Linked DNA regions of Homo sapiens: region 2 is linked to region 1. Evidence: fine-mapped expression QTL. A gene starts in region 1. The other region holds a variant in brackets. All regions are shown on one strand. Distances are from middle to middle. Region 1 holds the start of POLR2G (RNA polymerase II subunit G). Region 2 overlaps SLC22A24 (solute carrier family 22 member 24).

Evidence for each region. PIP is the estimated chance that this variant, and not a neighbour inherited with it, causes the effect.
Region 2: its variant is the best candidate, but not a certain one, in a credible set for the expression of POLR2G in prefrontal cortex (GTEx, PIP 0.78).

What each region holds. Positions count from the first base shown.
Region 1 is chr11:62,758,734-62,763,088 of GRCh38, forward strand. POLR2G (RNA polymerase II subunit G) reads left to right here and starts at 2,847. Exons shown (of 8, transcript NM_002696.3): 1 at 2,847-2,927; 2 at 3,062-3,171; 3 at 4,134-4,293. The coding sequence starts at 2,916. RefSeq lists an enhancer at 2,856-3,055.
Region 2 is chr11:63,114,650-63,119,042 of GRCh38, forward strand. It overlaps SLC22A24 (solute carrier family 22 member 24), which reads right to left. Exons shown (of 10, transcript NM_001136506.2): 4 at 4,263-4,393. It also overlaps the pseudogene RPL29P22. Among named protein-coding and RNA genes, the nearest start is that of SLC22A24, 27 kb to the right of the region's middle. The variant C/T (reference allele first, on the strand shown) is at 2,216.

The DNA of each region.
Region 1 (4,355 bases):
CTAGCCTGGTCAACAGAGTAAGACCCACATCTCTGCAAAAAATAAAAAATTACCCGCGCATGGTGACCCATACCTGTAGCTGGGGAATGCAATGAGCACTCCAGCCTGGCAGCCTGGGTGACAGAATGAGACCCTTTCTCAAGAAAAAAAAAAGGTGGGGCCGGGCGCAGTGGCTCAGGCCTGTAATCCCAGCATTTTGGGAGGCTGAGGCAGATGGATTACCTAAGGTCAGAAGTTCGAGACCAGCCTGGCCAACATGGTGAAACCTGGTCTCTACTAAAAATACAAAAAAAAAAAAAATTAGCTGGGCGTGGTGGTGGGCGCCTGTAATCCCAGCTACTTGGGAGGCTGAGGCAGGAGAATCACTTGAATCTGGGAGGCGGAGGTTGCAGCGAGCCGAGATTGCACCACTAAGTTCCAGCCTAGGCGACAGAGTGAGACTCCAACTCAAAAAAAAAAAGAAAGAAAGAAAAAAGAAAAAAAAAAGGAACACAAGCTTTGGAGCAGGTCAGCTATTCATACCCAAATACCTCCCCTTAATCTTTTTCTGGCTTATGTATAAGGTAGGAATAATAATAGTATCAGTGTCAACCTAAAATAATCCGACGGGTCAGAACCTAATTTAGAGTTTTTTCAAGTGCGAAGTATGAGAATGGAACACCTGGAACCACCAACTCCAGAAGAATGGAGTCAGTGTTGTGAAGTAAGAAAGTTAAGATTTCATTTATATAGGCAAGCACACATGACTTTTTAGCAGGATTACATTTTTCACAGAAGATTGGTACATAGTTATAGCAATTTGGTTGGCTATAGACAATGTTTCTTTTTGGGAAGTATACATGTAACTTTTTTTTTCCAATTTTTTTTTATTTGGAGTTTCGCACTGTTGCCTGGGCTGGAGTGCAGTGTCAAGATCTTGCCTAACTGCAACCTCCGCCTCCCGGGTTCAAGACATTCTTCTGCCTCAGCCTCTGGAGTAGCTGGGATTACAGGCACCTGCCACCACACACGGCTAATTTTTTGTATTTTTAGTAGAGATGGGTTTTCACTATTTTGGCCAGGCTGGTCTTGAACTTCTGATCTCGTGATTTGCATGTAACTTTTTTTTTTTTTTTTTTTTTTTTTTTTTTTTTTTTTGAGAGGGAGTCAGCCGGGCGCGGTGGCTCACGCCTGTAATCCCAGCACTTTGGGAGGCCGAGGTGGGCGGATCACCTGAGGTCGGGAGTTCGAGACCAGCCTGACCAACATGGAGAAACCCCGTCTCTATTAAAAAAAAAAAAAGAGAGAGGGAGTCTTGCTCTGCATCCCAGGCTGAAGTGCAGTGGAGCGATCTCGGCTCTTTGCAATCTCAGCTTCCCGGGTTCAAGCAATTGTCCTGCCCCAGCCTCCCCAGTAGCCGAGTAGCCGGGATTACAGGCATGAGCCACCAGTGCCCGGCGCATGTAACATTTTTTAACAGAGGATGAAATAGTCATGGATTTCCTACACTTCAGCCTGGGCGACACAGCAAGACTCCGTCTCAAAAAAAAAAAAAAAAAAAAAAAGAGTTAATCTATAATCTGAGAACAGAAGTTGTAAACTATATGTGACTCGCAGTCATATCTCTCTCGAGGCTTAAAGTGTTTTTTGGGCTTCCAATAGCTCTTAAATTTTTTTTTTTTTTTGAGACTCCGTCTTGCTTTGTCGCCAGGCTGGAGTGCAGTGGCGCGATCTCAACTCACTGCACCCTCCGCCTCCCGGGTTCAAGCGATTCTCCTGCCTCAGCCTCCTGAGTAGCTGGGACTACAGACGCCTGCCACCACGCCCGGCCAATTTTTTGTATTTTTAGTAGAGACGGGGTTTCGCCATGTTAGCCAGGATGGTCTCAATCTCCTGACCTCATGATCTGCCCGCCTCGGCCTCTCAAAGTGCTGGTATTACAGGCGTAAACCACAGCGCCCGGCCTAAATTTCATTATTTTCTGTAGCTTCTTGGCCTTTTGGCTAAGGCTCGTAAACATTTTTTTTTTATTTCTACACCAATTTCTGTAGATTATTATGAGAATTAAGGGAGAGAATTATATCAAGCGCTTAGCACAGTGTCTGGCATCTAGGAAGAAAGTAGTAAGTGATAGCATTTATTTATTTATTTATTTTATTTATTGAGATGGAGTTTCGCTCTTGTTGCCCAGGCATCTAGGAAGAAAGCAGTAAGTGGTAGCATTTATCAATCTATCTATCTATCTATCTATCTATCTATTATCTATCTATCTATCTATCTATCTATCTATCTATCTATCTATCTATCTATCTGTTGAGATGGAGTTTCGCTCTTGTTGCCCAGGCTGGAGTTCAGTGGCAAGATCTCGGGCCGCCTCCCAGGTTCAAGCAATTCAGATAGTTGCCGACCGGGCGCGGTGGCTCACTCCTGTAATCCCAACACTTTGGGAGGCCGAGGTGGGTGGATCACCTGAGGTTGGGAGTTTGAGACCAGCCTGACCAACATGGAGAAACCCCATCTCTACTAAAAATACAAAATTAGTCAGGTGTGGTGGCACATGCCTTTAATCCCAGCTACTCGGGAGGATGAGGCAGGAGAATCGCTTGAACCCGGGAGGCGGAGGTTGCAGTGAGCCGAGATCGCGCCACTGCACTCCAGCCTGGGCAACAGAGGGAGACTCCGCCTCAAAAAAAAAAGTTGTCGTTTGATGGCTGGGGGGCGGGGGTGAGGGGCGGGGCTTAGTGGTTCTCGCCCACGACGGCGAGGCCCAATCAGACCCGCGGAGCTGGTGGAGTTCCGCCCTCGCGGAGGAGGTGGTGTTCCGCCCTCCTAGTCGCAGCAAGCGCGGAACTGGGGTTGCGGCGTCTAAGTGTTTCCGGTGGATTCCCAGGGACTGTCGGAGGTGTGGACTCTGCCTGCCTACCTGGTCTGGGAAGATGTTCTACCATGTGAGCAGGGCTCAGGGTGGCGGCAAGGGCTGGGTGGAAAGGAAGAGCAAGGCCAGGCGCCGGCGCGAGACTCCCCTTGTCGTCCAATAACCTGCCAGCGCCTGGCCTGGTCGCCATCCCACTTTTCTCCGCAGATCTCCCTAGAGCACGAAATCCTGCTGCACCCGCGCTACTTCGGCCCCAACTTGCTCAACACGGTGAAGCAGAAGCTCTTCACCGAGGTGGAGGGGACCTGCACAGGGAAGTGAGTGTCGAGCTCACCGCACCGCCAGATCGTTCGATGCGCACACGGGGCGCTATACCTGCAACCCCTCCCCAACTCCTACTCGTCCTGCCACCCACTCTGGGGACCCCTCTCCTCTCTCAGGCAGCCAGTTGCTTCCTGCTTTGGGTTCCCAGGGCGCCCTCTGCAATGCTGGACAATAAGACTTCCTTCTCTCAGCTGAGATGGGTCATTCATTGACTCCTCAAACATTTTAAAAACCCTTGGTGTGTGCCAGGACCCGTGTTGGGCTCAGAACAAGGTAGAATGGGAACAAGATAGAATGAGGACAGCCCCTGTGGAGCTCACAGTGTAATCATTGTTCCTGTGTCTGCTCTCCCTCTGTCATTCTGCTGGTTTTCTCTTATCCCCTGTGCCCAGGGACCACACACCATGGGCCTCTATATATCTTCTGAATGAATGACCAGAAAAAGCAGATCGAGAGTTTGGGGGAGGAAGGAAGTAGCCTGGGATTTGACCATCTCTGGGCTTTGCACAGAGGGGCCTCTCTGATATTAATGAGCTGGGACCCAGCTCAGGGCAGTGGAGTACTTGGGCCTCCAGCATCAGAAAAACCTGCAGGAACATGCAGATTCCTGAGCCTCCTTATTCCCTACAGAATCAAGACTGTCTGGGGCAGACCTGAGAATCTGCATTTTAAGAAGATGATTCTCAGGCATCCCGAAGATTGAGATCTGTTGCCTCAAGGACTCCAGCCTTCTTGGACATTTATTGTGAAATTACCAGAACAGCATTTGGTCTTACACATACTGATCTCTGTTCTGTCTTCTTTTGGTCATTAAGCTCTCTGGGAGCAGAGGTGCTATCTACTTGTCCTTTTGCTCTCCCCGACCCTACCCCCAAGAGCTCAGCGACTTTTATTGCAGATGTCTTTAGAGGCTCTTGGACACACAGTGTCTTCCTGTTTCTCATCCTCCTTGCAGGTATGGCTTTGTAATTGCTGTCACCACCATTGACAATATTGGTGCTGGTGTGATCCAGCCAGGCCGAGGCTTTGTCCTTTATCCAGTTAAGTACAAGGCCATTGTTTTCCGGCCATTTAAAGGGGAGGTCGTGGATGCTGTTGTCACTCAGGTCAACAAGGTGAGACCATACATAGGGGAGGCAGTGGGGTAGTCTCTCGGAAGATCTGGGTTGGGTTCTGG
Region 2 (4,393 bases), 360 kb after region 1:
AATTTTCAGCTTTTCTGCTCTGTTTTCTCCCCATCTTTGTGGTTTTATCTACCTTTGGTCTTTGATTTTGGTGACCTACAGATGGGGTTTTGGTGTGGATATCCTTTTTGTTGATGGTGATGCTATTCCTTTCTGTTTGTTAGTTTTCCTTCTAACAGCCAGGTCCCTCAGCTGCAGGTCTGTTGGAGTTTGCTGGAGGTCCACTCCAGACCCTGTTTGCCTGGGTATCACCAGTGGAGGTTTTGCAGAACAGCAAATATTGCTGCCTAATCCTTCCTCTGGAAGCTTCGTCTCAGAAGGGCACCTGCCTGTATGAGGTGTCTGTCAGCCCCTACTGGGAGGTGTCTCCCAGTTAGGCTACATAGGGTTCAGGGACCCACTTGAGGAGGCAGCCTGTCCATTCTCAGAGCTCATACACTGTGCTGGGAGAACCACTGGTCTCTTCAAAGCTGTCAGACAGAGACGTTTAAGTCTGCTGAAGTTTCTGCTGCCTTTTGTTCATCTATGCCCTGCCCACAGAGGTGGAATCTAGAAAGGCAGTAGGCCTGGCTGAGCTGTGGTGGGCTCCACCCAGTTCGAGCTTCCTGGCCACTTTATTTACCTACTCAAGCCTCAGCAATGGCAGACACCCCTCCCCCCATGAGGCTACTGCCTTGCAGGTCGATCTCAGACTGCTGTGCTAGCAGTGAGCAAGGCTCCGTGGGCATGGGACCCAGTGAGCCAGGCATGGGAGAGTATCTCCTGGTCTGCTGGTTGCTAAGACCTTGGGAAAAGCACAGTATTTAGGCAGGAGTGTCCCATTTTTCCAGGTACAGTCTGTCATGGCTTCCTTTGGCTAGGAAAGGGAAATCCCCCAACCCCTTGCACTTCCCAGGTGAGGCAACACTGCGCCCTGCTTCAGCTCACCCTCCATGAGCTGCACCCACTGTCCAAGCAGTCCCAGTGATATGAACAAGGTACCTCAGTTGGAAATGCAGAAATCACCCATCTTCTGCATCGATCACACTGGGATCTGCAGACCAGAGCTGTTCCTATTCGACCATCTTGGAATGGAAGACCCGGTTTTGTTTTTTTTATATGGGCAGATGTAGAATTCTCTGCTGACAGATTTTTTTTTTCAGGTTTACTTGTACAAATAGCACCAGAGGACCCCAGCCCCATGCAGATGGCAGCCTATTGGGGAGGTTGCACCATTCCTTCTGTCCTCACCTTGGTAGACAGAGATATCCACTCTGAAGTCTTTGTAGGGGCTTGGGCACCTTTGGGAGCCTGAGCTGGAACTGAAGCTGGAGCTGCAGCCTGGGCCTTGGTTTGACCCTTGGCCTTTGGCTGGCACTGCCCGAGCCCCTTGACAACATGGGCAAGAGCCTACTTCCCAAGCTTGAGGTGGGCAATGTAGGCAAGTCAATCGAGCTTGTTGCTGACACTCTTTGGGATCTTGAGCTTAACTTCCTTGGGCTTTATGAGGGCCTTGATAGCCTTGGCATGTGCACTCATGGCCTTGGCATTGTTGACCTGCATCTTCTTTAGGCCCTTCTTGATGTGCTTCTTGGCAAAGCGCATATTCTTCAGGAACTTGGGGTCCACACCCTTAAGAGATTCATATCTTTGTGATCAGGGTTTCTTGATACCATTTCTGTGCCATTTTTCGGACTGGTTGTGTTTGGTATGGTTCTTGGACTTGGTTATGTCTGCACCTTAAGCCGCAGCTCCCAAAGCACCTAGAACCAGAAGGCTCTGGCAGATTTTTTTTTCAACACTTTGAATAATTAATCCCACTGCCTTGCAGACTCTGTTTTCTGTTGATAAATCAACTATTAATCTTATTGAGGATCTCTTTTCCATGATGAGTTAGCTTTTCTTTTGATGGTTTTAAAAATCTTTCTTTGGATTTTGGTAGCTTGATTATACTGTGTCTAGGTATGGATCTTTTCAGTTTATCTGAATTACAGTTTTTGAATTTCTTGGGTGTGTAGATTAATGTTTCCAACATATTTGTTTTATTAGCCATTATTTTTAAAAATATACTTTGTTCCTTTTTCTCAGCCCTCGCCTTCTGGGACTACAAAATGCATATGTTGATACCCTTGATAGAGTCTCACATGTCCTCAAAACTCTGCTCCTCCTTACTTATTTTATTCACTAAACTGGATAATCTCAACACTGTCTTCAAATTTACTGCTTTTTTTCTGCCTGCCCAACTCTTCTGTTTTGA[C/T]CATCCAATAAATTTTCACTTCTGAACATTTCAACTCTAGAATTTCTATTTGGCTCCTTTTAAACATTTCCATCTTCAATGATGTTTTCTATTTGGAGACATCTTTTTTTTGTATTTTTTTGTTACTTATTTAGACATGGTTTTCTTTAATTCTTGAGCATATTTAACTTAGTTGATTCAAATCCTATGTCTCATAAGCCAACATCTGGCTTGTCAGGTATAGTTTGTACTGATTGCCTTTTCTTCCTGTGTAGAAGTCATGCTTTCATGTTTTCTTCCATGGCTCCTTTGTTGAAAACTAGGCCTTTTAAACATATAATGTAACAATTCTGGAAATCATATTCTTCCCTCTTTCTCAATGTTTGTTGTTGTTGCTCCCTGTTGTAGTGATTGTTTGTTTGGTTAGTGGCTTTTTGTTAACGAATTCTGTAAAATCAGTATTCGTCATGTGTGGCCACTGAATCTCTACTTGGTTAGCTTAGTGCTCAGCTATTAAGTTAGTTGTCTGCAACCAATACTTCTCCCAGTCTTTATTGAGAGGCTCTGAGTATGTGACACTCAGTCAGGCAGTTTACATCTCTGCCTTAGCCTCCACCAACTGCATATGCAGAGCCCCAAGATCATCCAGAGGTGAGAGCTTAGGGACTTCCCCTTTCACCTCATCTACCTCTTCTATCTTTGCCACCCCTGAGATGGCAAGACCAACTCCTCCTCTTCTTTCCTCTCCTCAGCCTACTTAACATGAAGATGTTAAGGATTAAGACCTGTATGATAATCCATTTCCACTTAATGAATAGTAAATACATTTTCTCTTCCTTACGCTTTTCTTAATAACATTTTCTTTTCTCTAGCTTACTTTACCATAAGAATATAGTATATAATGCATATAACACACAGAATATGTGTTAATAACTGTTTATGTTATTGTTAAGGCTGCCAGCCAAGAGTAGGCTATAAGTAGTTCAGTTTTTAGAGTCAAAATTTATATGCAGATTTTTGAGTGCATGGGGTGTTGGCGCCCCCAACACTCTGCACTGTTCAAGGGTCAACTGTATTTTGTTCCTCAGCTTCTAATTTTCAACTCTTTGTTAATTATATTATTTTCCCAAATTGTTATCCATCACTTCAGACAGCTGTGACCTCAAAACATTTGTCAGTAAATATGTTTGACAAATGCCTTATGAGGGGAGCCTTCTCACACTAGGCAACTTTGAGTCAGGTCAAATAGAGACAGCCTTCCAAATAGGGTCTTAGGGGAGCCAGCAGAAAGGTATAATAATGACAGCTTTTTGTGAATGAGGTTTTGAAATAACTCAAGCTCTGTCCTCCTCCCTCTAGTACCAAGAATGTTAGCTGTTATTTTTTTTTCAAGGCTGCAGCATAGCTGGAGAGTAGGAACTGAAACTAAGATATGTTAAAAACATCCCAACATTCACTTTCTTACTGGGACTCAGTTTTTCTTCAACAAAAGATTCCCTAAATTGCTGCAAGTCTTTGGTTAATTTTCAGAGTTCTGAAAGAGATGATTTTGACAACTTTTTGCTAGTTTTGTGTTGCTTTTATGGAGGAACCAATTTTTGGAGATCCTACTCTGTCAAGTTCCCTGAAGTCGCCCCCATCCTAACTCTTGGTGCTAGAGACAGCATGCTCTTCTAATTTTAAATAGTTATGTAGATAAATTTATTGTGTTTTCCTTATATTCAATCTCAGTTACAATGACAAAAGCCCCCAAATTATCTCCATCACATAATATTCCAAAAGTTAGATAAATAATACATTTGCTTCAAAAATAAGTGGGTATTTTTTCTATTAAGAAAAATAATTTCATGATAATTCCATGTCTAAAATAATGAATGCAAAGTGCCAGCCTCCCCACATATAGTGTCATCCTATTCCATTGTTTGCTTCTCAGGTGACACAATAGGTACTATGGACATCATGGCTCAGGACTAGGCCAGAGACCGAACAGATCCCAGGTGTCAGAATTTTCCTTTCTATGTCTACCATAGCCTCGCTTACAGGCAAAGAATGTGGAGATTGTTCATACCAAGAGGACAAGAAGAGGACAATTATGGGTGTAGACACAGTCAGTTGCAATATGTGCCAGTCCTGAATGGCAAAAGCCAGCCCTCCTAGGAGCATCTGCCCAACACTGTAGGAACATAATAGCACCATTAT